2 linked regions of the Homo sapiens genome follow. The protein of the gene in region 2 interacts with the protein of the main gene of each other region in a pairwise test. Each region holds a gene or a part of one and is shown on either strand. Other genes may lie near its edges.

What was found.
Region 1: the proteins of EPB41L3 (region 2) and UNC13A interact in a two-hybrid assay, tested with the Homo sapiens proteins (one study listed by BioGRID and IntAct).

The regions. Positions count from the first base shown.
Region 1 is NC_000019.10:17,638,055-17,654,359, forward strand, and holds part of UNC13A (protein unc-13 homolog A), read right to left. Parts: intron 14,624-16,305; coding exon 14,577-14,623; intron 11,534-14,576; coding exon 11,455-11,533; intron 11,291-11,454; coding exon 11,285-11,290; intron 10,930-11,284; coding exon 10,858-10,929; intron 10,597-10,857; coding exon 10,377-10,596; intron 9,439-10,376; coding exon 9,211-9,438; intron 8,058-9,210; coding exon 7,916-8,057; intron 7,790-7,915; coding exon 7,620-7,789; intron 4,907-7,619; coding exon 4,791-4,906; intron 3,503-4,790; coding exon 3,339-3,502; intron 2,608-3,338; coding exon 2,457-2,607; intron 1,855-2,456; coding exon 1,786-1,854; intron 1,472-1,785; coding exon 1,382-1,471; intron 1,164-1,381; coding exon 1,029-1,163; intron 1-1,028. UniProt on the Homo sapiens protein: Plays a role in vesicle maturation during exocytosis as a target of the diacylglycerol second messenger pathway.
Region 2 is NC_000018.10:5,409,604-5,425,908, forward strand, and holds part of EPB41L3 (band 4.1-like protein 3), read right to left. Parts: intron 14,757-16,305; coding exon 14,659-14,756; intron 13,951-14,658; coding exon 13,775-13,950; intron 10,329-13,774; coding exon of another isoform or gene 10,275-10,328; coding exon 10,108-10,274; intron 6,776-10,107; coding exon 6,215-6,775; intron 1,017-6,214; coding exon 963-1,016; intron 1-962. UniProt on the Homo sapiens protein: Tumor suppressor that inhibits cell proliferation and promotes apoptosis. Modulates the activity of protein arginine N-methyltransferases, including PRMT3 and PRMT5.

The sequences.
Region 1 (16,305 bases), on a different chromosome or scaffold from region 2:
TGTTATATCCTATCAGAACCTGGGTAGGGGCTGCCTCCAGCTCCCACAGCCTCCTGAGATCCCACTATCTCAATACTAACCATCCCTGTTTGTAAATTTCCAGTTTGTACATCTTTCCCTCATAATAGGCTATAAGCTCCTTACAGGTGGTGGCTCATGCCTGTAATCCCAGCACTTTGGGAGGCTGAGGCAGGAGGATCGCTTGAGCCCAGGAGATCAGCCTGGGCAACATAGTGAGATGCCATCTCCACAAAAATACAAAAACTAGCCTGTCATGGTGGTGCGTGCCTATAGTCCCAGCTACTTGGGAGGCTGAGGTGGGAGGATCACTTGAGCCTGGGAGGTCGAGGCTGCAGTGAGCCATGATTGCATCACTGCACTCCAGCCTGGGCAACAGAGCAAGACCCCATCTCAAAATAAATAAATAAATTCAATTCAACTCAACATTTACTGAACAGTGACTGTATGCCAGACATAAATTTTTATGCCAGGCTGGGAGTGGTGGCTCACGCCTATAATCTCAGTACTTTGGGAGGCCGAGGCAGGTGGATCACCTGAGGTCAAGGAGTTCGAGACCAGCCTGGCCAACATGGTGAAACCCCGTTTTTACTAAAAATACAAAAAATTAACTAGGTGTGGTGGTGGGCACCTGTAATCCCAGCTACTCGGGAGTCTGAGGCAGGAGAATCATTTAAACCTGGGAGGCAGAGGTTGCAGTGAGCTGAGATCACACCACTGCACTCCAGCCTGGGAAGCAAGAGTGAAACTTTATCTCAAAAAAAAAAAATTTTTTTTTATGCCAAACTCAACTACGCAACCAAATGTACTGAGTGCCGACTATATTTTATCTAAACTTACAGCTCATGAACTCTTCTCCCTAATCCTGAGATGTGGGTTAATGACCCCATTTTATAGAAGAAGATACTGAGGTTCAGAAGAGTTAAATCCCTCGGGAAGGGGCAGGGCTGGGACTGAAGCCTGTGTCTAGTTGGCATCACTGTTCCCTTCTGACCCATCTGGAGTCTCACCGGGTCTGTCTGGTACTCCCGGCTGTACAGTTCATGGCAGTTATTGAAGATGTACTCGTAGGTAGAATTAAGGCAGGCTTTCACACAGTCCTTTACCACCTGGCTGGCTCGGGGCGGGCTCTGGAGTTCTTGTACCTGAAGGGAGGGAGAGAGGCATAGGCGGCCACAGCTGTGACAGGAGGTCCCCAGGAAGTGACTGCGAGTCATTTTGGGTTTAAGGAAATGAAGTGGTATGAAAGGAAAAGGTTACTGAGAAAGGCTGCCACTCTCCAGGAGGAATGTCACTTGTCCTGGGAGCTGGGGATCCTAGAGAACCCTCCTTGGAGAGCAAAGGCAACTGGATCCTTTCCTACCTTCATCCGAAAGAAGGTGATGCTGGTGAGAAGGTCCACAGTGGATTTGAGGTCCTGGAGTCTCTCCGGGCTGCTGGCTGGGAAGTTATTCTGTTGGGAGCAGGAAGAGATGTGGGGTTATGGAAGAAGGCGTGGGGAGGATGGGAGACTGCTTTTCAGGGGGATACAAAGGCTCCCCGGTTTCAGGCTGGGGGTTGATTAGAGCACCTCGAAGCAACTGGGGATCTGCTTGGATGCACCAAGCACATTACGGCAGGTAGTGCCCATGCAGGTGCACACATGCTGGAGGAACACATCGTACATGCGAAGATGGGTCCTCCCATGCACACACCTGCTGGTAGCTTTCCCCTCCAGGCACACACATGTGCGTGGGGTGAGCAAATTCTCATGCACACACTTCCTACCCGGTACATGGAGAGGTCAATCCGCAGGGAGTTATGCAGCTGGTCCAGGAGTTTCACGAAGCGCTCTTTCTGAGGAGGAAGGGGAGGAGGGAGGATGGATGGAGGCAGGACATGGCCGCCATAGTGGCTGAGCGCCTACTGTACAGTAAGTATACCTCATCCACCACCCTCATAATGTCCATTTCCATTCTATGGCATTTTTTTTTTTGTTTTGAGACAGAGTCTTGCTCTGTTGCCCAGGCTGGAGTGTAGTGGCGCAGTCTCAGCTCACTGCAACCTCCGACTCCTAGGCTCAAGCAATTCTCCTGCCTCAGCCTCCCAAGTGGCTGGGACTACAGGCACAGGCCACCACACCCAGCTAATTTTCTTTTGGATTTTTAGAAGAGACGGGTTTTCACCGTGTTGGCCAGGCTGGTCTCGAACTCCTGGCCTCAAGTGATTCTCCAGCCTCGGCCTCCCAAAGTGCTGGGATTACAGGCATGAGCCACTGCGCCCGACCTCCATTCTATAGCATTCTACAGAGGAATAAATGGAGGCTCAGAGACGGGAAGTGACTGGTGGAAAGTCACACAGCAATCAGGTCTAGACTGGGGACCCAGAAGTCACATCAGATCTGACCGGCATAAAGTTGGGCTCTCCCTAATTCTCCAATCCCAGTCCCCAGGACTGACCCCAAAGTTGGAGGCGGCGAAGCGGTCGGAGGCAGACACGTTGGTGGAGGCGGTGGTGTGTGCGTAGTAGGCATTGATGTTGGCGAGCAGGGTGCTCATGACGGCAGGCACCCCTGGGCACATATACTTGGAGGAGAGGCAGGCAAAGTGGCTGGAGAGAGGGAGCAGGAGGCACTAGGCCAGGGGTCCAGCCAGGATGGACCAAGATCCCCCCTAGAATGCCTCCAAGATAGCATCTGTGAGTGGGTCTCTGTCACCTCCTAAACCATCCCCTGCCTGATTCTGTCCTTTGGGTCTCCGCATCTCCTCTCCCCTCCATCTTTATATCCATTTGAGTTGCTCTAATTCTGCTTCTTTTTTTCTTTCTTTCTTTTTTTTTTTTTTTTGAGATGGAGTCTCACTCTGTCACCCAGGCTGGAGTTTAGTGGCGCAATCTCGGCTCACTGCAACCCCTGCCCCCCAGGTTCAAGCAATTCTCCCACCCTAACTTCCCGAGTAGCTGGGATTACAGGCCCAAGCCACCACACCTGGATAACTTTTGTATTTTTAGTAGAGATGGGGTTTCACCATGTTGGCCAGGCTGGTCTTGTACTCCTGGACCTGGAGTGATCCGCCCACCTCAGCCTCCTAAAATGCTGGGATTACAGGCTTGAGCCACTGTGCCCAGCCTCTATCTCTGCTTCTAAGTCTTCCCTCTCTTCCATGTCACTCCAGGTGTCAATCACAGCGCTCTCCTGATCTCCAGGGGAATTACGGAACCCACCACCACCACGCCCACTTCCTCTCTGGGTCTTCCCCCTGAGAATCCCTCCCACCCCAGACCTGCCAGTGCCCACTTGGTGACCTCCCTCTTGTTTCCTGCACCCCAGCCTGCAGTCTCACGTCATGGCTTGGTAGATGGACTCGACGCCGTAGCGCATGGCAAACTCGTCCACAATCTCCTGGGCTGTCTCATCGTAGTAAACCTTCCAGGCATCGTCACCCTTGGCATCTGGGATCTTCACGACCCCATTGTTCTGCACGTCGGTCACGAAGTGGAACAGGTTCTGCCACCATGGGAGAGAAAGTGTCATGGAGAGTGCAAGGGGTCGCCGGGGGTCAGAGGTCCCAGGGTCTGGGGCAGCTTACATCATCCATCTGCCTGTTTATTCATTAATTCATTCATCTACTCTTTTATCCATCCACACACCCACCCATCTAACTACCCCAAATTTCACCCATCCACTCTTCCAACCTTTCAGTAATTCAACCACACATCCATCCATCCATCCATTCATCCATCCCATACATTGATCCGCAACTTAATCCACCTACCCAATCATTCATTCTTTCATACAACCAACCATCCATCCACCCATCAATTTATCCAACCATCCATTTTTCGTCTGTCCACCAGCCACTCACAACCATCCATCTAAATATTCAGAAATTATGAACCCAATTATCAATACTTGCAATAGTTCAACCACACATCCTTCCATTCATCCACCCACCCATTCATCCATTTGTCCATCTGCCTATACATCCATCCATCCATCCATCCATCTACCTATCTACCCATCTGACTATCAACAAATTCACCTATCTACTCAATCTTCCTTCTAATAACTCAACCACACTTCCATCCATCCCATCCAATACAACTTAATCTGCTCATCCAACATTTCATCTATCCACCCAGTCAATCATCTATCCAGCAATCTATCTATCCACTCATCAAGTTATCCATCCATCATTCATCTATACTCATCCATCATCTAACAATTACCCCCAAATTCACCCATCCATACATCTATACTTTCAATAGTTCAATCATATATCCATCCATCTGTCCATCCATCCATCATCCATCTAGCCACGAATCTACCCACCAACTCATCCATCTATCCATCCATGTACTCACCCATCTCTCCATCCATCCTTTTATCTACTCATCACTCATTCATCTGTTCAATCATTCATTCATTCACCAGCATTTATTCAACAAACTAGTTCCTGGGGATAAGAGTTCTTTCCAGGAAACCCAGGCAGCTGGAAGAGACATACCCAGACACAAACGGCCCAATCCTGAGTGGTTAGGGCTGGAATAGAAGGAAGAACCTGATGATGAGTAGTGAGAGTCAACCTGGAGGCCAAGGTGGGCTTCCCAGAGGAGGTGACCCTGAATCTGGACTTTGATGGATAGGGAGGAGTTTTCCAGGTAAAGGGAATGGCATGGCGGGCAGTCTCAGAGGGCCAGGAGAGTGTGGATGGTGTGGCCAGAAAGAGGAAGAGCTGGGCAGGCAGGAATGGTGAGTGGAAGTGGCATGGGAGGGGCCGAGCAATGACCCTCACCTCATGCAGACAGGTGTACTGGACATGGTACGGGGCCACCTTCTCCTCGCCTTTGATCTCCACACTGATGTGGAGCCGGATGGCACCCGACACGGCAGATTTGTCAGTTCGCTTGTCTGCAGGGCAGAAAAAGAAGACAGTGTCAGAACTTCCCACTATAGCAGTGGGCAATTTTTTTTTTTTTAAGAGGGAGTCTTGCTCTTGTCACCCAGGCTGGAGTGCAGTGGCACGATCTCAGCTCACTGCAACCTCCACCTCCTGGGTTCAAGCGATTCTCCTGTCTCAGCCTCCCAACTAGCTGGAATTACAGGTGCCTGCCACCGTGCCCAGCTAATTTTTATACTTTTAGTAGAGACGGGGTTTCACCATGTTGGCCAGGCTGGTCTCGAACTCCTTACCTCAGGTGATCCACCTACCTCAGCCTCCCAAAGTGCTGGAATTACAGGCGTGAGTCACCGCGCCCGGCCAGCCATGGGCAAATTTTTTTTTATTTTATTTTTTTTTGAGATCTGTGGTCCAGGTTAGAGTGCGGTGGCGCAATCTTGGCTCACTGCAATCTCCACCTCCTGAGTTCAAGCAATTGTCTTGCCTCAGCCTCCCGAGTAGCTGGGATTACAGGCATGTGCCATCACACCCACCTAATTTTTTATTTTTAGTAGAGACGAGGTTTCACCATGTTGGCCAGGCTGGTCTCGAACTCCTGACCTCAGGTGATCCGCCCGCCTCGGCCTCCCAAGGCAATTTTTAATAGATACACGATTCTGTAGTCCTCCCAGACTTCCGGAAACTAAGGCTTTGGTGTCTCTCTTCTGATTGGCTCCCTAGGCTTGAGTCTCCCTGTTTAGGCTAGAATTCCTTAAGCCCTGTCTCTTCCTTCAAACAAGGATCCCAGACCTTGCTTCTTCACTCAGATTAAGTTCCTGGCTATGTGCCTCCCTCCTTAGACTAGCAGCCCTAGGCCCCACTTCTTTCCCAGTCTGAGCTCCCAGGCCCTGCCTCCCCCATCAGATCATGCTCCCCGGAGACTACACATCTTAGACACTGTTCCTGGGTCTGTGCCTCTCTCCTCAGACTAGGACCCCCTGGTCTTGTCTCCCACCTCCCCCATCAGAATGGGATATCTAGATGTCCTCCAATCTAAGAGGTTTCCGGGCTCTGCTCACCTCTCTCAGGCTGGGTCCTTTCTACCCCCTCAGATTAGGCTCATACACCCTGCTTCCTCCATTAGATTGGACTCCCCAGATTCTACTCAACTTCCTTACACAGGGTTCTTTGATCTGTAGCAGCCATCTCAGATTAGGATTCCCAAACAATACCTCCCTCTTTAGACTGGATTCTTTTCTTGTGGTGGGGGGTCGGGGGGACACAGAGTCTTGCTCTATCGCCCAGGCTGGAGTGCAGTGGCATGATCATAGCTCACTGCAGCTTCAACCTCCCAGGTACAAATGATGCTTCCACCTCAGCCTCCCAAGTGGCTGGGACTACAGGCACGCATCACCACACCCAGCTATTTTTTTTTTTTTAATGGAGACAAAGGCCTTGTTATGTTGCCCAGGCTGGTCTCGAACTCCTGGGCTCAAGTGACCCTCCCAGCTCAGCCACCCAACCAATATGTTGGGATAACAGGTGGGAGCCACCATGCCCAGCCTGGATTCCATTTTTTTTTTCTTTTTCTTTTGTTTTTTTTTTTTTTTTTTGAGACGGAGTCTTCCTTTGTTGCCCAGGCTGGAGTGCAGGGGCTTGATCTCGCCATGTTGGACAATCTGGTCTCAAACTCCTGACCTCAAGTGATCTGCCTGCCTCAGCCGTCCCAAACTGTTGGGATTATAGGCGTGAGACACTGCACCCGGCCATATTTGTTTTTTGAGAAAGGGTCTCACTCTGTTCCCTGGGCTGGAGTGCAGCAGTGTGATCACAGCTCACTGCAGCCTTTACCTCTCAGGCTCAGGGGATCCTCCCACCTTAGCCTCCAGAGTAGGTGGGACCACAGGTGAGTGTCACCCTGCCTAGCTAATTTTTGTATCTTTTATAGAGATGGGGTTTCACTATGTTGCCCAGGCTGGTCTTGAACTCCTGGACTCAAGTGATTGGCCTGCCTCAGCCTCCCATAGTGATAGGATTAATTACAGATGTGAGCCACTGCCCGGCGCCCCCAGCCTGGATTCTTTTTTTTTTTTTTTTGAGTGGGAGTTTTGCTCTCGTTGCCTAGGCTGGAGTGCAGTGGCGCAGTCTCAGCTCACTGCAACCTCCGCTTCCTGGGTTCAAGCGATTCTCCTGCCTCAGCCTCCCAAGTAGCTGGGACTACAGGCACCCACCACCACGCCTGGCTAATTTTTGTATTTTTAGTGGAGACGGGGTTTCACCATGTTAGCCAGGCTGGTCTCGAACTCCTGACCTCATGTGATCTGCCTGCCTCAGCTTCCCAAAGTGCTGGGATTACAGGCGTGAGCCACCATACCTGGCCCCAGCCTGGATTCTTAAAGCTCAATCTTCTTTCTTAGATTTAGTTCCTAGGTCTCTGTCTCTCCCCTCAGACTAGGATTCCCAGTTCTTGCTTCTTGCCTCCCCCATTAGACTAGAACATGGAGATTCTGTCCCCACCCTCCCTCCTAAGCTGAACTAAGAGGTTCCTGGGCTCTGCTCACCCTCCTGGCCTGGGTGCTTCCTGCTCCCATCAAACTGGGCTCCTAGACCCTGCCTCCCCCATCAGATTATGCTCCTCGACCAAACTCCTCCTGAGAACACATCTCTCTGCTCTTCGTGGGCTCCATGCTCTGGCTGGATCCCTGGGACCCGTCCCCACCCGCTTCAGAACCCAGCTTCTCTCACCCAGGTTGTACCACACGTCCATCTCGCCGCTGAGCGTCCGCACCTCAATGATCGTCTGCCCCAGGAAATCGTCAGATTCCCTCTTGAACCTCTGTTTCACGCGGGATTTGATGTCGTCATCCTCGTCCCAGACGCGCACCTTGATGCGGTCGGAGGAATTGTGACATTCACTGTGGCGGGAGGAGGAGGCAGAGGCAGGGGTCAGGCAGCCAGTGTGAGTCCTGTCCTTGGAGCCCTCTTTTGGCTGCCCCAGCAGGATGCCCCACATGGGGCCAGGGACCCAGCCAGGCACTTACAAGTGGAAATTCTCCTCCCACACCGGGTTGAGGTTCCCATAGATGGTTTTTGTCCGTTTCTTGGTCTTCCCGACCTGGACGGTGACATAGGGGTCACTGGATCCTGTCTTGTCCTTTGCCTGCAAGCCCTGGGCGCAGACCACTGGAAGACACAGAGGGCATACACAGGTGTGCACTCAAGAAGCGAGGCATGCTGGGGACAGTCACTGCCACACGCTGCAGGCTGATAATTGGGACACCTGCAGCATGGCTGGAGAGCAATGGCAGGGCACGCTGGGCTTGCCAGAGAGGTTTTTTGTGTGTTTGTTTGTTTGTTTGTTTGTTTTTGAGACAGAGTTTTGCTCGTCACCCAGGCTGGAGTGCAACCTCCGCCTCCCGGGTTCAAGCAATTCTCCTGCCTCAGCCTCCCAAGTAGCTGGGATTACCCGCACGTGCCACCCCATCCGGCCAATCGTTTTGCATTTTTAGTAGAGATGGGGTTTCACCATGTTGGCCAGGTCGGTCTCGAATTCCTGACCTCAGGTGATCCGCCTGCCTCAGCCTCAGCCTCCCAAAGTGCTGGGAAGGAGTCCCCAAACCATGAAGGATGGGAAGGTGCCCCAGCTGCCTTGCGCATGGGTAGGACCTCTCTCAGGTGTGAACTCCCTGAGGTCAGACACTTACAAGAACCCATTGCCCCCCGAGATCTCCTGCTCGTTGGTGCCCCCTGCAGGGTTCCTTCCCTCCCTGACTTACCACCCCAGCTCCGTCCTGGGGTCACTTCCTGGATAACCCACATAACCTGAAATCCTCATCCTCAGGTCTGTTTATGGGGAAACCCACATGAGGCTGGGTGTGGAGAAAAGCCAGTATCCTCGCCCCTAAGTGGGGCCACACTGAGCTGCATGCTCGACATTGTCCCCAGTGGCCCCAGGATGGGCTGACCCCCTTGCCCACAGCATTGTCTGCTCAACGGCATCTCCTTCAGGACTCCTTCCATCCCTGTCTCAAGTCCTTGCCCCTCACCAGGACTTTCTGGGGTCACTTTCCAGATAAACCATGCACCCTCAATTCCTCTTCTTGGAGTCTCATTCTGGAGGGCACCATCCAAGACGCACCCAGATACAGTGCCATGAACAGGCGTTTGGAGGCACGCATGTCCCCCCATATGCGTGCACACACGGAGATGAGATGGAATGCACCCGACCGAGTGAGTGCGCGCTGCAAAGGAGAGGGACCAGGCCATGGGACAGGGCATGAGACAGGTCTCAGAGGGTGGAGAAGGAGGGGCCCTATGGCGGCCCACGCCCCCTCACCGGTGATGCTGATCTTGGCGGACCACTTGGACGTGCCGTCCAGCACGCTCTGCTTGACCGCCTTCATCTGCTGCGTGTGCGCCGTCTTGGTCACCGCGAAGATCTCCTGGATGAGCTCGAAGATCTCGGGCTTGTTGCGCTCCCGGATCTTCATGCGGTCCTTGAGCACCATGATGATGTTCTGTGTCCGGTCCTCCGCCCCGTGCTTGGAGCTCTTCTCCGCAGCCCCTGAGGACGCCCGAGGCCGGCGCTGACCCCAGCGCGCCCTGCATAGTGGCCCCTCACCAAGGCGAGAGCCCCGCCCCTACTCATCAACCGGGGGGACTCAGGTGTCACCCCCTGAAGCCGGTTTCCTACCTGCTTTCTGTACCCCCCACCCAGACCCTTCACCCTTCCACCTCCTCTCGGAGCCATGCTCCTCTGAGTCGCCATGTCCCTGCGTCCTGCCCTTCTCTGCCCCGCACCCCTTGGAGTCCCCACTGGTTTTTGGAGCCCCACCCCTCTAAGGCCTCTTCCCTAAGCCCCACCCCTCTGAGTCCCCGCCCCCTCTGCGTCCCACCCCTCTGAATCTCCGCCCCCTCTCTGAGTCCCACCCCTCTGAGTCCCGCTGCCTCTCTGAGCCCCACTCCTCTGAATCCCCTCCTCGTCTCTGATCTCCACCCCTGCGAGTCCCCTCCACATTCCTGAGCCCCTTCCATCTCTCAGACCCCTCCCTTTCTCTTGGTCCCACCTCCTCTGAGTCCCCTCCCCCTTCCAATCCCCCCCTCCACAGTCCTCTCGCAGTCTGAACCCCTTCCCTCTCTGAGCCCCTCTTCCTCTCAGAGCTACCCCTAGCTAACCCATTTTATCCAGGGGAGCTGCCTCTTCTCACTAAGCCTGTCCTTTGCACAACCTAGCTAGTCCCTGAGCCCTGCCCCACCCCTCTCTGACACCCTCACAGCTTCTTTCCCCACCCCTCGACCCCCTAGCCCTTCCACCAGGGAGTCCTGCGCCTTTAACCCCACCCCTCCCTTTCAGCGAGTCCCTCCCCTGCCTCACGACGCCCCGCCCCTTGCCCCGCCCCATGGTGCCCCACCCATCGCCTTGCCCTTCAGCCTTTCCCCGCCATGCAAGCCCCGGGGCTCCCCACGCCAACCCGTGGCCCTGCGCTCAGGCCCTGCGCTCACGCTGCAGGCAGTCGGCGTTGAGCAGGTCCTGGCACTTCTCGTGGCACTTGACACCGCACTCGGTGCAGCGCATGCCCTGCCTCGCGATGCCCCACAGCAGCCCCTCGCACTCGTAGCAGTAGGTGGGCGTGGTGGCCGTCCACACTTCGAAGTTGTGTGGCGTCGTGCACGAGATGGGGTAGATTAAGGCTTGCAGGGTCTTCTTGTAAACGTGGTTTTTCTGCAGGGAGGGATGGGGTGCGGTTTGGGGGCGCCTAACCTGGCGCTGTCCCTGTCCTGCCCCATTCCGCCCCATCACTGAGCGCGGTAAAGTCCCAGGCCCTCCCCTGCCTCCACGCTGTCGGAATCCACGCTGCCTTCTGCCAGTCTGTGTCACACACACACCCTTCCTCTTCCCGGGGACCCACAGAGGCTTGGACAATTCCAGAAGCTCCTAGCCCAGTCCATCCCTGACCCGGGGAAAAAGAGGTGCCCCACGCACCAGCTCCTCGTTGTTCAACGTGCTGGAGGCCAAGGCCGAGGTGATGCCCGCTTTCCTGGACTGGACCAGGGACTGGGGAGGTCACAGAAGAGGGAGTCGGGGGGGTTGACATCCATGAGATCACCACCAGGAGAGTTCACAGCCACGGATGGGGCCAGCAGCCACATTTTGGAGCCACAACCGCAAGTTGGAAACAGGTCACCGACAGCATCCGGGCCAGACCCAACAAAGAATTAGGAGGTGACAGAGGCTTTGAGTTAGAAGGGACCCTGGAAAGTGAGCAGCCCCGCACCCCTGACTCACAGCATCCAACACAGTGGGACATGGCAAGGTTCCCCCATAATCCATGAATTGGGGGCCTGTTAGAAGATCCCAGTGGGGGAGTTTGGGGAGAAGATCCCAAGAGGCCCATGTCGCCATCACTCACCATGGCCTGAAGTGTCCACGCAGCACATGGGGGTAGAAATCAGACTACATTAGTCTCAGAGAATGCCTAGCTGGCCCCCAACCCCAGGTTGACCATGGGCAGTTCCACAGGTTGTGCACTGCTTATAGCAGGCCTGCTCTGCTCAGGGAGTAAAGGGCGAGGGTGCTTACCAAGTCGCTCACGAGTGGGATAGGTTTCCTCTTGCGGATGTCTGGCATGCTGTCGATGATGATGAGACCGCCCCCTGGGCTGAAAGACACAGAGGGACACTGAGGGCCCAGATGTCCCTATTCCTCACATAGAGCCCTGGGGAGAACATTCAACCTCCCCCAGGTGTTAAGGGGTTGAATTGGGTCCCTCAAAAAAAAGATACGCTGATGCCCTAACCCCCACTACCTCAGAAGGTGACCTTACTTGGAAACGGGGTTGTCACAGATGTAATTAGTTAAGATAAGGTCATACTGGAGTAGGGTAGACACTTAATCTAATATGACTGGTGTCCTTAGAAGAAGAGATACATGGGGAGAAGGTGGCTCTGTGACAGCAGAGGCAGAAAGCGACGTATCTACAAACCAATACTCGGGGGCCAAGGAATTCAAGCAAACTAGAAGCTAGAAGAGGCAGGGGAGGAATTCTCTTCTACAGATTTCAGAGGGAGCATGGCTCTACCAATGCCTTGATTTCAGACTTCTGGCCTCCAGAACTGTGAGAGAATACATTGCTGTGGTTTTAAGCTACCCGTCTGTGGTACTTTGTGACAGCAGTCCTAAGAAATGGAGACACCCGGCCTCACCCTCCTCATCTGAAAAATGGGGAGATGATGTAATTGCCCACCTTGAATGAAAACGTGAATTAAGGCAAATCTAAATAATATACTAAAATATAAATGAGGCCAGGAGTGGTGGCTTACGCCTGTAATAATCCCAACACTTTGGGAGGCCGAGGCGGGCGGATCACCTGAGGTTAGGAGTTCGAGACCAGCCTGACCAACATGGTGAAACCCCGTCTCTACTAAAAATACAAAAATTAGCCAGGCATGGTAGTGCATGCCTGTAGTCCCAGCTACTCAGGAGGTTGAAGCAGGATAATTGCTTGAACCAGGAGGCAGAGGTTGCAGTGAGTCGAGATCACGCCACTGCAATCCAGCCTGGGTGACAGAGCGAGACTCTGTATCAAAAATAAAATAAAATATAGATGAAACCTTTCTTGGCTCATTGCAACCTCTGCCTCCCAGGTTTAAGCAATTCTCCTGCCTCAGCTCCCCAAGTAGCTGGGATTACAGGTGCCCACCACAACGCCTGGCTAATTTTTGTATTTTTAGTAGAAACAAGCTTTCACCATGTTGGCCAGGCTGGTCTCGAACTCCTGACCTCAGGCGATCCGCCCACCTTGGCCTCCCAAAGTGCTGAGATTACAGGCGTGAGCCACCATGCCCAGCCATCTTTCGAAACAAGATCTCACTCTGTCACCCAGGCTGGAGTGCAGTGGCACAATCACGGCTCACTGTAGCCTCCACCTCCTGGGCTACAGCAATCCTCCCACCTTAGCCTCCTGAGTAGCTGGGACCATAGGTGTACACCGCCACACCCAGCAAATTTTTTTTTTTTTTTTTTTTTTGAGATGGAGTCTCGCTCTGTCGCCCAGGCTGGAATGCAATGGTATGATCTTGGCTCACTGCAACCTCTGCCTCCTGGGTTCAAGCAATTCTCCTATCTCAGCCTCCCAAGTAGCTGGGATTACAGGTGCGCACCACGACACCTGGCTAATTTTCTGTATTTTTCGTAGATATGGGGTTTCACCATGTTGACCAGGCTGGTCTCAGACTCCTGACCTCAGGTGATCAACCGCCTAGGCCTCCCAAAGTGCTGGGATTACAGGCATGAGCCACTGCACCCGGCCCACACATAGCTAATTAAAAAAAAATTCTTTTGTAGAGATGGGGGTCTCGCTATGTTGCCCAGGCTGGTCTTGAACTCCTAGCCTCAAGTGATTCTCCTGCCTCAGCCTCCCAAATAGCTGGGATTACAAGCATGCACCACCACACCTGGCTAATTTTTTGTATATTTTAGTAGAGACGGGATTTTGCCATGTTGGCCAGGCTGGTCTTGAACTCCTGACGTCAGGCGATCCACCTGCTTCAGCCTCCCAAAGTGTTGGGATTACAGGCGTGAGCCACCAAGCCTGGCCCCGAAAAGGTTTTCACTGGCCAGTGAGATAGGTGCCTGCAGCCAATGACTCCAGACAAGCCCTGCAGGGCTATTCAACCTACAAAGCTTTCTGCAGGAGCCAACTGAGGCTTAGAGACTCCTAAACCACATCTTTTCTCGGCAGCCTCCCCTTGTCTGACAGGTTTCTCCCGAGAGCACATCCTTCATAAATCACGTGCACAGGAATCCGCATTTCAGGACCCGCATCCAAGGCTCTCTAGCTAGGGTACCTGCTCATTTATTTAGGAGTCCCAGCTGCTGTCTCCCTGCCTGTTTGCCAAGGACGTACAAGGAAGGTCACTATCGTGCTGCTATTTTAAAACCTGAGCATATTTTTAAAATATCTTGTGCATCCTCTAACCTGAAAATCCATAACATAAGAGGTTAGACATGACCACATTCTCCACTGAAGACTAAACAACTATCTTTAATTAAAGAGCCCACAACTGTAGCAATAATCAAAGAGATTTAAAAATAGAATCAACGCAAAAATTTTGCTCCAGGATTACAAATATATAGTGTACATTTCCCAATAGTGTCTAGTTCCTCATAGTGTCTGCTTTATCTTACATTTATTTATTTATTTATTTGTTTGTTTATTTTTGAGACAGTGTCCCGCTCTGTCTCCCAGGCTGGAGTGCAGTGGTGCAATCTCAGCTCACTACAACCTCTGCCTCTCGGGTTCAAGTAATTATCTTGCCTCAGCATCCCAAGTAGCTGGGATTACAGGCGCCTGCCAGCATGCCCAGCTAATTTTTGTGTTTTTAGTAGAGACAGGGTTTCACCATGTTGGCCAGGCTGGTTTCGAACTCCTGACCTCAAATGATCCTCCCGCCTCGGCCTCCCAAAGTGCTAGGATTACAGGCATGAGCCACCGCACCCCGCCCTGTCTTCAAAGATTACTGTCTTTTGTGTCTGCGTATGGCTGTGTGCCTTATGAAAGTGACGTATTTTGCCCAAGCTCAATCTGTCCCCTGTCTAAATGGAACCCCTCCTCCTCCTCTCTGGGCTGAGGCTCAGGCGCAAACCAGCCTTGGACTTGGGGTTCAAATCTTCCTCCCACCGCTCACAGTTTCATTACTTACCCGCCTTTGAACCATAGGGATTTAGACATCTCTCCTTCTCCCCGGGCCTGCAGGACAGACAGACAGATATGGTCAGTGTGGCTGTCCCTCCCCTCCCCAGAGCAGGCTCCACACCCACTTCTGACTCCCCTCTGGGCTGGGAGTCAGATGGCCTGGGTCCTAGTCCTGGCTGAGTGATTTTAGGAAGCTCCGTGGCTATCTCTGGGCCTTAGTTTGTCCATCTGTAAGATGGGCTGGGGGAGAAAGAAGCTCTTCTCTTTCAACCACCTCAATGGACCTCAGTCTCTTCATTGATTATTCCCTAAACCCCCTATAGTCTCACTTGTTCATCTGCTCTCTTGCCTCGGGCTCTTTCCAGGAGTTGTGACTTCAGCTTGTACCTCTTCCCACCTTCTGCAGCCAACCAGCCTCTATTTATCATTCGGGTCTCAGCATAGACGTGGGGTCCACAGCCCCTACCTTCCCTCCATCTTGTAACTAAAGGGTTAACATGGGGGGAGGGGTGGCCCTATGAGGAACACAGGCAGCACTCTTCTGTTCTGAAATATTGAGGGGGTGTTTGGTTTTTTTTTAAAGACAGGGTCTTGCTATATTGCCCAGACTGGTCTTGAACTCCTGGCCTCATGTGATCTTCCTGCTTCAGCCTCCTGAGTAGCTGGGACCACACACACAAGCCACCACACTCAGCTCCTGAAATAAATATATATATATATATTTTGTTTGTTTGTTTGTTTGAGACGGAGTTTCCCTTTTGTTGCCCAGGCTGGAGTGCAGTGGCGCAATCTCAGCTCACTGCAACCTCCACCTCCTGGGTTCAAGCGATTCTCCTGCCTCAGCCTTCCTAGTAGCTGGGATTACAGGTGCCCACCACCACACCCAATTAATTTTTTGTATTTTTAGTAGAGGTGGGGTTTCACTATGTTGGCCAGGCTGGTCTCGAACTCCTGACCTCAGGTGATCCACCCACCTCTGCCTCCCAAAGTGCTGGGATTACAGGCGTGAGCCACTGCATCCGGCTCTGAAATATTTTTTATTTTTTTCTTTTAGAGATGAGGTCTCACTACGTTGCCCAGGCTGGTCTCAAACTCCTGAGTGCAAGTGAGCCTCCCGCCTCGACCTCCCAAATTGCTGGGATTACAGGCATGAGCTCCTGAAATATTGTTGAAATAAATATTTTGGATATCACTTCTCTTTTTTTTTTTTTTTTTTTTTTTGAAATGGAGTCTCGCTCTGTCACCCAGGCTGGTGTGCAGTGGCGCGATCTCGGCTCACTGCCAGCTCCGCTTCCCGGGTTCACGCCATTCTCCTGCCTCAGCCTCCCGAGTAGCTGGGACTACAGGCGCCTGCAACCACAGCCGGCTAATTTTTTTGTACTTTCACTAGAGACGGGGTTTCACCATGTTAGCCAGGATGGTCTCGATCTCCTGACCTCGTGATCCACCCACCTCGGCCTCCCAAAGTGCTGGGATTACAGGCTTGAGCAACCACGCCCGGCCATCACTTCTCCTTAAGTGTCATCTCCTCCAGGGAGTTTTCCTGATTGCCTTGGATTAGTTTTATGCTTTTCCTATGAAACCCAGAGAGCCTTCCATGTGTCTTTTTCTTGTCATATTACTAGTTCCATAGTTTGTTTTTCTTGTATATCACATAGTTCCAATAGTAGCTGCTATTTTTTCAATTTAATTTCTTGACCTAGTGGAAGTTATCCAACAGCCTTTTCACTGTGTCC
Region 2 (16,305 bases):
GATTTTTTCTGAAGATATTTTCAATTAAGTGATATACAGATACCACTTACAATATTTTTAGTTTTTTCTAAATACCAAACTAGAAAATATTATTATAATAGGATGATGCAAAAAAAAACATATAAACAACCTAAAATAAACATTATTACAAAGTAAAAACTAAATTCTGCTAGTAAAAAGTAGCCGAATTAACATCAATAAATGTCTTGACTTCCATTAGTACAGATATTATTTTTAAAGATATTTTAACTACTTAATGGTAGAGAAGATTTGAAAAACAATATAAGCCACACACACACATTTAATGTGTTTCTTTAACCCTAAAGAAAAAAGGAGAAATAACAGTATATCTTCTATCACTGTTTAATGTGATTATATTTTTTAAAAATAAAGTACTAACAGTAATTTAAAAATTCATTTCTTATGAGTGACCGAGGCTACAGTCAAAGGCTACAAAAATGAGTCAGGTAAGTCTTATTTTAACAATAATTATTTCACCATTGGGGAATTAAAAATATATCTGTATCAAGCCAAAATACTAGTTAATTGTGACCTTCTTCCCATTCATTCTATTATACATCTGTAGCCTCTCATTTGAGATAGAATTTTTTTCTAAAAAAAAAAAAAATGTATTATCAGTCTAGGCAAGTGGTTCTCAAAATATGTCCTAAGATGTGCAGAGTCAATATCGCCTGGGAACTTGTTAGAAATATAAATCCTCAAGTCCACCCCCAGCTCTTCTGAATGAGAAACATGAGGCTGGAATCCTCCAGGTAATTCTGATGTAGGCCAGAGTTTAAGAACCACTGGTCTAGACAACAAAATACATATTTAACTCCAACTGTTAAAGTTAGAACTGATCTCCATTACAACAGCTCATATGTGGAGTTCTTAAACACAGAGCCACCCCACAAGGCATTTTCGGTATGCCACTACCAGCCACTCTCAGCCAAAATACCAACCTCAGTGGCAGTGGTCTCCCCGTCGGCTGCGGTGTCCGTGCGCTCACTGTCAGTCTGTTGACCACAGAAGTGATCAGGTTCCAGGAGGAAGGCAGGGACAGAAAGTAAACCATCTGGTTAAACACGCTCTGGCACAGGTCAGACAGGTCATTTTCTTTCTCTGTGATTTCTCTGTGTCACACTACCTTCTCACAAGAACACAAGTTCAAGCAAAGCAACAGAAGGGCCAGAGCTAGGTGTCATCAACAGAGCCAACTCATAGGAATACCTGAGGCACACTCAGCCTGCAGGAGCTGGGGAGCCACACTGACCTGTCTGGTTCTATGTCTCAGGGAAACCGATTTGTCATCCCCACACCCTTCCTCCAACTTTTAACTAAAAACCTCAAGCAACATCTCCTTAAAATGTTTAATGCAAATAAAATTGATGTTTATATATATTTTATTCTAGTAATATTTCATATTTGAAAGGTAAATGAAAATGTCAATTTACAGAAAAAGCTACTGTAACAGTCACTGGACTTTCAGCCTCTCATTTATACCATTATGATAATTTATATCCATCTAGGGCCATCAGGCTGTCTGCATTACCTGTCAATTATAAAAGGCACATGCCAGTGACTCACAGGCATATATTTTTTATGGGAAAAACATAACTCAATTTTCAAGTAGCGTCGCTAACTAGGTATTTTTTAAGACTAAATGTTATGTTTATTTTGCCCCACCCTCCAATATAAAGAAGTATATTAAAGTATGTATTTGAACATCTTGCTCCAAAAATACCATTCAAATGAAGCAAATAAGAAGAAGAATTGTTAAAACAATAGACAGAGAAAGAGAAAGAGAGAAACATCTACTTAGAAACAAATAAAACAAAGCACAGCATTTGACAGAGCCTAGGTTTTGAGGAGAATGAGAACAGTAATTTCAGGACTGGTTTTTAATCTGTTTCACAGGGGTTTATGGCTTAAAAACTGTTTTCTCTCGAGTAGAGTAGAGCTGTGGACATCTAAATGCCCTAATATTAACTGACTTTCCCTCCACAGATATCAACTAATCATTAATAAAGTTCCCTTGATCAAATATCTGTGATTAATATTTTGAAAACAAAAATGAAAATGGGAGGCGAGTCTATGATGGTGAATCTGGTTCTTAAAATAACCTCCCACTACAAAGAACAAGAAATGTCAGGAAGGGGCAACTGGGACAGTGTTGTTTCCACTGACAAAACTAAACTCTGGCTATGCTGATTTCTTGGCACTAGCCACATGTTTCATGTTACGTACTCCTAAAAGAAAGGGAGGCTGAACACATGCTCAGCACATGTACCTGAGGACACCATTCTGGCACCCTTGCTACCAAGTCTAAGTGGAAAATAATTTTCTGTAGGTTGGTAAGGAAAGCGTGTTGACCCATTTTCATGACCTGACCGGCTTGGTTAACAACTGGGGGCAGGAGGTGGCTGTTAATTTTCATATAAAGGTGATTGTTGTTATGGGATTAGTATGGCTGTACCGAGTGACAGCCCTGGGAAAGGCCAGTTTGAATTAGTAAGAGAGACCAGTTATTTGTTCAGGTGTACAGAATAACTCAAAGATCTTAGGCTTTCAAGAATAAATAAGAATGACTTGCACTTAGTGTTTTATTTTTTTAGACAGGGTCTCGCTCTGTCACCCTGGCTGGAGCACAGTAGCACAATCTTGGCTCACTGCAACCTCCGCCTCCTGGGTTCAAGTGATTCTCACACCTCAGCCTCCCTAGTGGGACTAGGGAGGACTCCCTATAGTCCTAGCTGGGACTATAGGTGCATGCCACCATGCCTGGCTAATTTTTGTACTTTTAGTAGAGGCAGGGTTTCACCATGTTGGCCAGGCTGGTCTCAAACTCCTGACCTCAAGTGATCCGCCTGCCTCGGCCCCCTAAAGTATTGGGATTACAGGGGTAAGCCACCGCGCGCCCAGCTCGAATGACTTGCATTTAGTGTTCTAATTAGCTGTGTCAAACACTTCTAAAATTTTTGAAAGTGCTTCTCCTCCTATTTAGCTTATTTCCCTTGTGGTTTTAAAATTTACTTCAGTAACTTGCAAGCATTTTAGCATTAGGGGACAGTGGTCGTTAAGAGGGAAAGGTTTAACGTCAGATGAACATGAGCTCAAATCCTTTCTGTTCAAACCTGTGGCACATTGGGCACTTTTCATATTTTAATCTCAGTTTCCTTCCCATAAAATGGGGAAAATAACAGCCCTAACTGTATTGGGTAATGGATAGTAAGTGCTCTATATAATGCCTGACACACTCAGAGCTAAAAAAAAAAAAAAAAAATGCCTATAACAATTATATTATATAATTATTCCTATTTTTCTCAGCCATACACAAATAGCATAGTCCACATATAAAATTTCTTGAATTCCTACTTAGCATTTAGTCAGTCAGTCAGTAGTATAGTGCCTGATCAAGAGTCAATAAATGAATAAGGCTGAATAAAACAGTTTTTATAGCAACTGGTATTTCTATAATGTATGATGACTACATAAAACTGCAAATATATAACATATCATAAACTATCATATAATACTGTTTATGTAATTTAAAATGTTATAAATCAGTTAATTTTTCTTCCTCTTTATTTGAACTTATCTCTATTTTTCTTTGTATTATCAAAAAATTACTCAGAAATACACATGTAATTGCATTTTATGGTTTGGGGAGGTAAGTTCATCTCATGTTTCTTGATAGGATATTTTGATATCCTGCCCCTTATTTGACCATTCTGAAAGTACAAAAGAAAAAACATGACTGGTCAACAGCTTTATAATGTGAAATATTGAAGCCTTTTTATACTGGATTTCACTCTTAGAAAGGCTGGAAATAAGCCACCATAACATGTTAAAAAAGTAAGCAATGATGATACAATATTTAAAAAGAATTAATTAGTAGTGACTTGGCAAAACGAAAGTGACAAGGCTGAATTGTATGTTAAGAAGTCACTCAGTGTAGCTGCCACAGTGCTTGAGGCCTAGAGATTAAATCAGGCCATGTAAGCAAATGGCAATTTAAATAAAACAGACCAGAATGACCTCAATATGAGTTCTCTAGCTCAGCCTGAACTAGAATGCACAGCTCTTAACACTTCAAGAGACAACACTGAACAGATGGCTAGTTACAGAGTCTGATGGCAGGAGAGCTATCATATAGGCTGACTAGGGCTGCGGAGAAGGGTGATGAAGACTCCAGTGGTCAGTGCTAATTCATGGTTTTGGAGGTTTGCAATAACAAGGACAGTTATGACTGGGAAGCTCCAATCACACGTTCGCTAGCTTGTAACAATTAACTGCTGTGATTTGTTTTGCCAATGTAATGCAGACATGCCCAAGTTTAACATTAATTCTCATGCACTGATTACAACAAGATGTATACCCTGGATTAGGCACAAGATCTGTGTGGTTTGCTATATAAAAGTTGAAATATTTATTTTGAATTTAGAAAAGCATAAAACAGCAATCTTTTCTGCCTTATGTTAGCTTGATGACTAACTCGACTGTTAAAGGAAAAATATATCTCCATGTTAGAAATCAGCTAATAAATAATAACATTGTATTTGTAGACAATATTGTGTTCTTAACTGTAATATGTTCTAGTCCAACACTATTTGATAATATTGCCAATATGAGAAATAGTGATATTAAAGCCTAGGATTTCAAGTAGTTCTCAAAATATTTTCCATGTATAAAAAGTTATTTATATATCAGTTGGAGCAAATCGTTATATATAACTCAAGAACCTTGAAAATGTCTCTTATGCAAAATCTATTAAAAGTGTAGACTTTTACTTAAAACACCTGTGAGACCATTCACATTTTTTTCCTTCTGCTGCAAAGAAATGGTCATAATTCCACTAAATATAGATACTCGCACACCCTCAACATATAATACTATATACTCACAGGTGCAGCTCAAATTATGACTTTCTAGCTGAGCACAGATTTAGACTTTCTTTCCTTTTTTAGCATTGCCTTGACTTTGTGACTTTAAAAAAAAATGCTAAGCGTATTTTGCTTTTTTCCTATCACAACAGCTCTTGTTCTGTGGGAACAGGAGGGCTGCAGGGAGCCTGGGGAGAGGAGTGGGGAGGGGCGCGCATGACAGCAGCCAGGGCCTCTGGTGGCAGCTTCTATTATTCTTCCCTGCACTCTATTTGAAGCCTGGAGAAAGAGAAACTGCTGGGCTGTTCACTGGGCTGTGTGGCAGTGGGAAAGGAGAACAATTAACAGGAAAAACTACTGGCTACCATGTCAGCTCGCCCAATTGCTCGAGTCGGGGACAGGAGCCTGCCCTGCAGCAGCATGCCTTCAAGGATGGAGGCTGATAGTTCAGGGTCTTTCGCCCACTATGTCCATGTCTGGCTGGCAGCCATAGAGGCCCAGCCTCAGCACACTGTGAAAATGGGGGGATTTTGAGACTCATACTGCAGTTGAAAGAATCGCTGTCATATTATCTGCATTGGCATTGCTAGCATGGTGAAATTTCAGCCTGCCTTTACATTGTTTGAAAACTTCAATTTAGTCCTTTTCTGATTGTGTCTGAACACTGCTGCACTGCATGCCGTTGCTTCTGGGCTTGTTTCTGCCCTTACCAATGGCTGATGTCATGTGGGTGCTTTAAACTGCTCTGACACAATACAATGCGGGATCTGATTGACTGACCTCTCTGTGAGTAACAATGACTGTCTGGCAATGATGAGCAGAGGGTGGTGGGGACATTTCAGGATCTCCAGGGAGGAGATACCTTTGCAACTTTAGAAAGCTACCCAGGTGATGATGATACATCCCCTCCGGGGATGCACTCTTCCACCTCTCCTTGACTGTCATTTAAGTTGAAAACTACTCATCATCTGTCTTATATGTGATTTACCTTATTAAACCATAACTGATCAGAACCTTTAGCTTAGCCCTGATCTTTTACACAGCTGACGGGTTATATAAAATTGACTTCTGGCTGAGTCTTTCATCCCACGTAGAACTCAGTGGGTAGCAGAACGATTCCGGGTTGGGCTCAGACTGCTACATCCACATGGTGTTGTGCCTAACCCTGGGGCCCAGGTTGGACTCCCCAACACACAGAAACCTCAACATATTGGCACAGACAATAAATGAGGCTCTGAAAGTAGGACCACTATGGCAGCAGCCAGCTAACACTGTTTCGGACTCAAGCACGGAACACGAAGGGGAAGCGTGTTCTATGCCGAGGTACACACCTCTTCCTCTGAACTGTCACTCGGGTCATTGTCTAGGGAGGCGCTCAAGGAGGCCGCCTTGGGCTCCAGGTAGCAGAGGCACAGAGCCAGAGGGAAGGAGAGAGTGAGAGCGTATGGCACTGAGAAGGAGGCAGACAGCAGAAAGAAAAAGATGAAGAGGAAACAGGGCACAAGGGACGGTGAGCGGATCGGGAGGTAATGCTGCAAGCTCTGGGGCAGGAGGTTGGTTTCAGAAAGGTTGGGGAAAGAGAGGTATCCATCATCATCTAGGAGGGAGGGGAATGACTCAGGGAGCTGCAAGGAGAAGGAGAACAGGGTGGTCCCCTTGCCAGTTTGCTGTCTGTAGCTAAAAGCCACATCTTGATCCCCTAGGTAAGGCCTCCCTGGGCCATCAGAGTCCAAGGCGGGCTCTCCAGGCAGGTGCTCAGCTCTGGACGGCTCATAACCTGGCAGTTTGCAGTCATTCTCCTTACACCTCCTACGGAGCTCTGTGGGAGATGTGGGGGCACAATGGGTGGATGGGGGTGACAAGGGACATGAGTCAGTGCCAAGCCCAGGTGACTGATGTGAAAGAGACAGAAAGAGACAGAAAGCAGCAAACAGAGGTGCAAAAGGACAAAAAGAAAACTGCAATTAGTTAATTTTCTTATGGGTATCAATATAAAATTGTAAAACAAAAATTTTAGCACTAGGGTTGCTCATGAATGTTAAAGTATTCAAGCTGCATGCCACTGTTGCCACGAACGGCTACATTTCTCCCATGAGACTATCACATACAGGTGGAATTCTTTAAAAACTCAGAACAGAAGGTATTTGTGGGCAATCCCAAAGTCTACACATTTCACATGGTCAAAAAATTTCCCTTTAGACTAACAACTCTAGAAAGTTTCAGGTTTTGGGGAGCAAACATAAGTAAATCTGATAACTTAACATGAAGACTTTCAATAGCCTTCTCCTGATTTCCAGGTAGCAGAGCTGTTACTATAGTTCAGCTAGATTAAAAATGAAGATGAAATCCAATCCAGATTTTGATTAAAAAAAAAAAACCAATCTCTAGCATTAGTCCTTTCCCTGGTTATTCAATTACATCCAAAACAAGGAGTTTACATTCCAAATCAAGAAGTTTCTGGCCCCACTCCTATCTGATAAGTAGTTACAATCAGGGATTCGACAGTTAGCATTTCTGAATATCTCACTCCTCAGAAAAGAACTGAAGTTCCCTTGAAAGCTCTATTTTGGCTCCTTTATTTAGGATATTAGTGGAACTTCAACTGAAGTGATTTCAACAAGCTAACTAGCAAAAACAATGTGTTTTCTTGTAACATGCTTTGCCAGTATTTACTTTCTATTATTTATGATGCATAATAACAGAAAGATATAATTTCCCAGCCTTCTGATTTTTCTTAGCAGATAAAGGGCATATTTAGATCTTTGGTTTGAGTCCTTAATATAATGATAAAAGCAGGGTTTTCCACAGGTGCTCCCCTGGTGAGCTCAAGCTTTTATGGGGCAAGTGAATCTGCTTCTCCTCCTCTCTGGGTCCTGGAAGTCTCCACGACCAGGGCCAGTTTCCTCTGCAGGTGGCGGAGGGGTTGCTGGACAAGAAGGGGAGGAAGGAAAGCACGCAAGCCCCAAGCAGGACCTGGGCAGGTACAGCAGCTGCTGCAGGCCGGGAAATCCAAGCCTGAAAGTAATTAGACTTCTGCTGATGTCTGTGTCACTGCGTGTGTGTATGTGTGTGTTTTGCCCAGTGGCCTGACAGCATGGAAATTACCCAGCCTGCCTTGTGTGGTTATGCAATCCTGACTTGGGGAGAAGTGGTAAATATAGCGACAGAAAGAAAATGCACAAATAAAGTTACATCTGAGGCATGAGGGAAAGAAAATGCACAAATAAAATCGTAGCTCTTCGGCCTTTGAAGGGTCTCTTTTTACGATGAGAGAAGTATGTCTTTTCCCACACATTTGCATTTGACATTAAAGACGGCACTTTAAACAGGAACCTGCACAAATCTCATTCAACTAAGAATAATGTAGCTGCTACACATTAACTTCTGCATGAAGACAACTGTCCTCCAGCATGGAGGTGAGGCAGCCCCATGACCCAGGGGATCCCAGCCTGGGAAACGTGCCTCCTTCCCAGGCAACCTAGGGGACCAGCCTTTCAAGAACTATTTTCAGTAATACACTTTCATTTTGGTTGAAAAGTAAGTACCCTCTGCGTTACTTTTTGAAGAAGGAGAAGGATAAAATTAAGGTTTAACCTTCCATGCTGATTATTAAAGTCATTTCTAGAAGACAGCTTTGCACTGGGGAAACCAAGCCAGCCCACACCTATATGAGCACCAGATTTCAGCTACAGACTTCCTGAAGACATTCTGCCCAGAGTGCTGGCTTCTCAGAGACTCAGGCTATGAGGCTGGTAGTGTCCTTTGTCTTTTCCCACATCACAAATGGCACCAAGTGAGGACAGCTTAGTGCTACGTTTTATATAAACAAACTGGTGGTCTTTTAAAAGCAAATAAAGTGAAAATGTCCGGCCTTATCTTGGGAGCAAAACTAAAAATCACTTACATTGATGTGTCACTTCTTCAATACTTATACATCCATGGGAATCTTATGTTGGCATGGCGAGTTTATAAAATGTTAGAATAACTAAGAAGAAGAACCACATATTTGTTTTTTGGGTGGATTATATTCTTTTCTGTCCCCTTTAAAGCCTTCCTTGACTGAACAGACAGGAAGAGTGTAAAAACAAAATTTAGAACAAAGCACATTTTAACAGCAAAAGTTATCGAAATATCCCTGCCATTATTTCCTACTCTCTGCTTAATTTTGTGTTTGCCAAATAAATAATCTTATCCCAAAAAATAAAAGATGATGGATTGGGCCATTTGTAATATTTTAGCATAACTACAAAAATTATTTGTCTATGTTAAGATGTCACTGCTAAATTCTCATCAAAAGGAACACTTTCCATAGAATTCGGGGTAGTGATTCTCCATCTCTATTTGAAGAGCCCATGTACAAAAGATCACTCGTGAATCAAATTTACTCAAATTTTAGGATAACCCATGGGTTATTATGAGCATTTTCATTCTGCTATTTCCTCTTACTCTATGCTCTGTACAGGCCAGGAGCCACTCTGTTTTTCCCTTATTATTAGGTATAAGCCTCCTGAAGGGTTTTTTGACTTTTAAATTATTTTTCTGAAAAGTTGCTTTGTAGTGCTGGATCACCAGAAAAAAACATAGTGTTTAAAAATGGTGTTAAAAAAGATATTTAATTTGGGGTGAAACAATGTTACAAAGTTTAATGAATTCAACACTGAAAGAAGAAGCTGCTGCCAAATTCCCTTTTTATCTCCTGTTGCAACTTTCTGCCTTAAGATCCCTTTTCAAAACATGGCCAGTCACTACTCTGCTGATTAGGCGTAAGTATAAATATGTAGGCTGTGGTCACTCCATGTACTTACAGTCAGAAGAATGGCAATATGATAATTGTATATCTAGAAAAATATGCTGTACTTGGGTAGGAGAATGGGGCCAGAAACAAAGAAAACAGCTTTAGTGACAGTTCTGAAATGTGAGCCCAAACAGAAAAGTGTAATACGCCACCAAAAGTATTTTTAAGATACACATACAGGACAGCTATTGAAAGTCTTACATAGCACACAAGTTATTAAAATAAAAATTTTCAAAGAGCTATGAATGAACCTTTCAGAGAAAAAATGTTGAAACAGCAATCATAATTTAAAAATTGACATATGAATGTGACCAGTGCTGACATATGATTTATCCTAAATCTGAGCACATTCCTGGTTTACAGCCTCAGCATCATTTAGTCATTCTTAAAAGCTGGAGCAAGCTCTTGCAGGCAGTCTGGGAGCTATACCTTTCCCTCGTGCCGGATGGCCGAGATGGGCGTGACTTCTTCCCCCTTCCTCCGTTTGTCCTCTTCCTCGTCCCGCTCCTCCTCAGCCTTCTTCTCCGGAGTCACAGTGGTGATCAAGTTGGTCTGAGAGATGCCTTTTGTTGTGGCGTACTGGCCAGTACCAACCTCTGCAGCAGACATAGAATCCTTCATGTATATTTCATGGTTTTCATTCACTGATGCTAAAAGCAAATACAATTAAAGAAATAAAATCCAAAATAGTTAGGTCAGAAGACACATGAACAATACCAACTATATCTTTACTGAAAAAAAAAATACCAACACAAAATACCAGGTTTGCCTTGAAAAAACAAATCAGTGCTGCAGGGACCTTCATGAGAGCATGACCTTCCTGTATTTCCTATATGAGTGCTTTAAAATTCGTGAAATGCTCATGTCTTGGAATTTCATCTATCCTCAGACTCTCTGCTGAGGATGTGTGTAAGTGTGGAGGTGAGTGGAGGGTCATGAGGCGAGGCTGCCGCTGGGCATATTATCACCATTGGCTGGCACTGGCACCAGTCTCGTAGTGGCCAATTCCACACCTAACAGCAGTCTTTGCAGTACACAATTGCTCTAATACACTTGGCTCTTTGGAAGTGCCATTCACCAAGGAGCACTGAATTGGTTTTCATATTATTATTATTAATGTTGAAAAGTCTATCACTCTTACAGTATAAAAGCTCCATGGGTAATAACAAATATTAACCATCTTGGTAGAGATTATAAAAATCAGATGGCAATTCCATTCACCTAAAGTACAGAAATGTTTTCATTTCTACTGCATTTTAAACAGACTACCATAATATGCATATACATTTACTCATCTCTAATATTTTGGGAAAACACAATGAATGTTGCTAAATGAAATTCATGCAAATGCAAAACATGCAAACTCAAGAGAATAAGACAGAGCCTTTCATCCCAGCTAAAACGTCTTAGTGAAAAGATGCTTAATTAAGTTTTAAAAGTTGGTACTCATTATTTTAGGTTTTAGATATAAAATTTATTAAAACTTATAAATGTTGCTTTTCAAATACACAGTAACTAATCACAGACAAAATATCTACATTATTATTTTAGGAATTTAAAAACGTAAATAAAAGAAAGGATTCTGAAATGAAATCCTCTCTGAAATGCTTTCGATAGCTAAACTATGTCACTAAAATATCTTCACTAAGACATTTTATATCTCTTTACACCGTTGAAAAAGCTCATATGAGACACAACTTCCTAATGGACCAGTTAGGCCATTCTCTGTGAGATGCAACCTTGCAAAAAAGCAGTTTATGTTGCAACATGCAGCTGTGCCACCCAGCTCAACAGCAGCAGAAAACATACTAGAGCTGGCAGGACCGCAAGGAGTGAGAGACAACACATACTAACATCACTTTTGGGCAGGGAGAAAGAGACAGCATGACATTAGTACACTGATTTCACAATTGTCTTCTGTCTTCTCAGCAGTCATTATCACACTAAAGGTCATAAGGAAAACAACATTCACAACAAATGTGTTCCCTGGGGTGCACGTCACTGAACAAAGTGGATGATATTCAGGAAAAAAAAAGTGCGATTCTACAAAGTTCCTCAAATACTGATAACATATAGAAATAGGTAATAGAGACACTCTAAAGGAGAAACAAGAGTCAATAGGATAAACCAGAAAGAAAAGCTTCAATGTTAACATCGATATTTCAATATCTTAATTCAGCTCGAAACAGTCCTGGTAATTATTTTATTCAAAAGGGCTGGCTCTAAGTTCGGTATTCTGGAAACTCTTAGAAGACACACAATGGCAATTAACTTCCTAGGCTAGCTCACAAAAGCCTGTAAGAATAATTATGAATATAAAATGTGGTATATATACATCATGGAATACTACTCAGTCATAAAAATGAATGAAATCATGTATTTTGAAGTGACTTGGATGGAGCTGAAGGTCATTATTCTACATGAAGTAACTGAGGAATGAAAAGCCAAATACCATACGTTCTCATGTATAAGTGGGAGCTAAGCTATGGGTATGCAAAGGCACAGAGTAATATAATGGACACTGGAGACTCAGAAGGCAGACAGTGGCGGGGGTGGTGGTGACGGATAAAAAACTACATATTGGGTACAATGTGCACTACTCAGGTGACAGGTGCACTAAAATCTCAGACTTCACTACTATACAATTCAGCCATGTGGCCAAAAACCGACTGCTTGTATCTCAAAAGCTACTGAAATTTTAAAAAAATGTGAAAAAAGAGTAATTATCAATATGATTATTGAGATAATTACCTATGTAACAAGAGTGCTTTCACATATATCTTGCTTTTCACAACAGCCCCGTCAAAGGCGGCCTTATTCCTATTATACAGATGACTAAAACAGACCTGGAGAGCTGAAATCATTTGTCAACCACCGCAGAGACAGAGGGCAGCAGAGCCTGGACTTCAATCTGGATTTACCCATGCCACAAGAGTACAGTTTCCACCTCGCTAGTAACATACATAATATAGCACTAATAATGCCATTTTGATTTCTTCTATAAACTGTTCATAAAGTATTCCATTAGAAAAAGACAGTTGTTTTTAGTTGGGAGATTCAAGGAGCACCTCTCCCCATCAATCACCCGGCTAGTGAAATGGGGAAGGCAGAGCTGAGACTCTCAGGGGAACAGTGGCAAAAAAGGTAGGAAAGGAGATGGTACCATGCACTTGTAACTTTTGTTTATTTTTATTTATGTTTTTCCTTATTATTTAAACCATACTTGCATACCAGAAACTCCTAATTCTTTTTATTTGCACAGGATAAGATCTTCTATTAAAAACAACAAATCTCCAGGTGCTCCAAATGAGAAGACAGAGACCTAGACATGATTCAGTTCCAGAGTATTGTTACAGCGGGCACGCCTTGCAGCAGAAAGTGTACCTCCATATTACTTCAGAGAGCAATCAAGAAACTGTTCGATAAAACAAAACCCTACTAAAAATTCACTGTTGTGTTATCCCCTAAAAAGGTAGTTTGAATGATCATCTCTCCATTTGACTAATTTAACTTGGCAGTACAGAACCCCTACCTAGCACTGTTCTCCCAGTCCATCTGGGGTAGTAATTAGCACAACTAGGAGAATTTAACTTACAACCCTGTGCTCTGTTATTTGAATGTCATCCTTTCTACCAGCTATTATCAACTGACTGATAAAGGTCACACTTTATTCATAAAGATTTTTTAGAAACAGAAATAAATTTAACTTATAGATTTATAAAACAAATGGTCTTAAACCTACCAATCCTTTAAGACCTGTTGGCAAGAGAATCAAATCACAGAGTATGTGACTACTATATTTAGAATGAGAGCATCTTTCTCCAAATTCAGGGTGTCAGCTTATGAAAGCTATTTTCTTCATTCCCGAAGTGCCATTCTTTTATGTAATTTTACATAAACCTGCAGATGTTAGACTGACAAAGGGACTTTCATTTCGCTGGGGGAGACTTAAAAATGTGCCATTCAGTCAATAAGCAACAACTGCTTTTCAACATACAATATCCAGGAATATCTATACTTACTGAAAGCTCATGACAGTTTCACATTCTTTTTGGGGTAGGTACTAGGTTATTAAGGGCCAGTAAGCGATGCCTACCTCCATCCAAGCTGCGAGACATGGTATAACGTTTGCTGGATGAGCGTTCAAAGTAAGGTGCTGGGCGATCTATCAACGCACTGGCTCTTCTCGTTTGCGCTTGTGTCCTGCCACTATAACGAAACTTGGAACCCAAGGTTAGGAATTTCTTGGGAGGTGCTTCTGGTAACAGTAGTCTAAAGAGAATAAAGAAAAACAGCAGAAAGACTATTAAGTCCAATATTGAGAGTGCTTTTTAAACTTTTTACTCTGAGAGGTCATGTGTTTTGCATGCTAAACATTTAACGCACAACTTGCAGTTAAATAAATCTGATTTCATAAAAGAATGCATATAGTATATATCAACTAGGGATATTGTAGAGAGGATATATGCAAATGAGGGTTGTACTGAACTAGATGAATTTTTAACATTCCACGCAAAGTGGACAGTCTATGGTTCTATAAGCCCAAACAGCTACTAAATAGTTTGATATTAGTGAAGAAGAAGAGTGACAATTTGGTGTTGGGTGCCTAATTTGATGGGTCTCGTACCATGCATAGGTAGGTAAAGGGATTCAGGGTATTGAGAAATCACTGAAATAGTAAGGAATTGAAATAGTAAGGAATGGATTGGATATTTGAAGTGGACACCCTAAAAATAATGTAAACACACTAAAGATACTAAAGAAGGGGGGTTTGGGACATGTAAGTACATGACAAATTAGGGAAAATCCTTCAAATTTAGTCTTTTTCTAGTTCTCTTAGGATTTCTTATCAAGAAATATGGTGACAATGAACTTGAAGGGATAGAAAGAATAAAATTCCATATTTTTTATTGACAATCTTTTTCAGTATAAGTGATTATAATTATTCCTTAGGGAAAAAACAAAATAATCTCTTCCTACCTGAAAAATGTATGATGCTCAACACATACTTTCCATAAACGCTTGGCAGCTCGATGGTTTGGCAGCTTAAACCCAATGGTGCTTTCAAATTGTTCAAACTAAATAAAAAAAAATACATTGAAGAGTAAAGTTTAAAATTATAAATAACAGAAGCCCTGTAAATAAATTACAGAATCATGATGCCACCAGAATTTTAAAAATTTACTTACTAGATCAATTGCTATATGCATAATTCATGCTATACAGATTCATTTGTTAATTTCAAAAATGTGTCTTTAAAATGCTGCAGGTATAAATAGCCACTTTATGCATACAGTAAAATGTCTTCTGAATAAGTGTGTATCTTATGATACAACTGAAAACCAAACACGAAAAGGGGTTTTTTTGATTTCTTCCAGAAATCAATTTGCCCTGATATCACTTTTAAACTTTTATTTTCATGGTTTCTCAATGACACAATGACTTCAACTGCAAGGTACAGAAATGAACAAAATGTTTACAAATATAGTCTACAGCATTCTTAGAAATGAGACTTTTCTCCTAATACCTGGGCAGGAAATATGTGTATTTCTTAGGTAGTTGATAACTTGGTGTCAGAGATTGCTGATTTTATTTGTGTGTTCCGCTATGGATTATCGTGTTAAATGCTAACGTCTCTCTATATCATACGTAAGATCAGAGATTGGGGGAACATATTTTCATATTTTTCAGCATGTACACTTCAGATGATGCCTTATCAGCCATTTGATTTTTCGAGGTGAAATACTCATCTCATTTCCTGCATAATATACTTTATTACTGCAGATGCACAGGTTTTCACATTCTGAAGAAGGTACACATCAGACCACCAGAGGGCAATCATCTTAAACAGTAAAGGCTTCCCCAAAGAGCACACAATGGGTACTACTGCTATAATCAATAGCAAAAATCATTTATATGGCAAAGAACCGAGGTGAGGGGTCATATGCATGGCATGTGAGATACAATCATGTTTGACCTCTATTTCTTGTTTGTTGAGGATGATTAGGGGAAGTGGGAAACACATCACAAATGCTTCAACCGCAATTGCCTTTCCCAACTTCTTATTCACTCTGGATGTTCATGTGCAGTGGTGTTTGTAAAAATCACTACTGTCTAAGGGACTCAGCCAAGACAGACATAGTGTGGCTTGTGACTAAATCATCATCCATTTATTCATCCTGCAACTAATATGCACATATTACGCCAATGCCAGGGGTTATATGGAAGAGTCAGCTTGCACTCTGCTGCAAGAAGCTGGGAAGAGTCTCTGCCAACCTCTGTAGGCAAGGATGATGCAGGCTCCTAGACTACCTGAATAGGTATTAATAGTTTATTAATATCTATTTCTCTGTGTTTTATATCAATTTCTTTCAACTTCTTCAGAGTCTGTGTGTCTCCAATTTCTTCTCACTCACTTTTCTCAGGCTGTAAATAGGATTGTAAAAGCAGAGAGAAGAGGAGTGAAAAACCAGCTCTCTCTGAGCCTGCTTATGCCAGCACCACAACCCCATCTCACTCCTCACTGCTAAACTTTAGGAAGCAGAAGCCACGACCTGCTGCCTCTGCTACCTACTCCTGACCTCAACACACCTGGCAGGTGCTCCTGTTGCCCTTCTGAACTCTGAA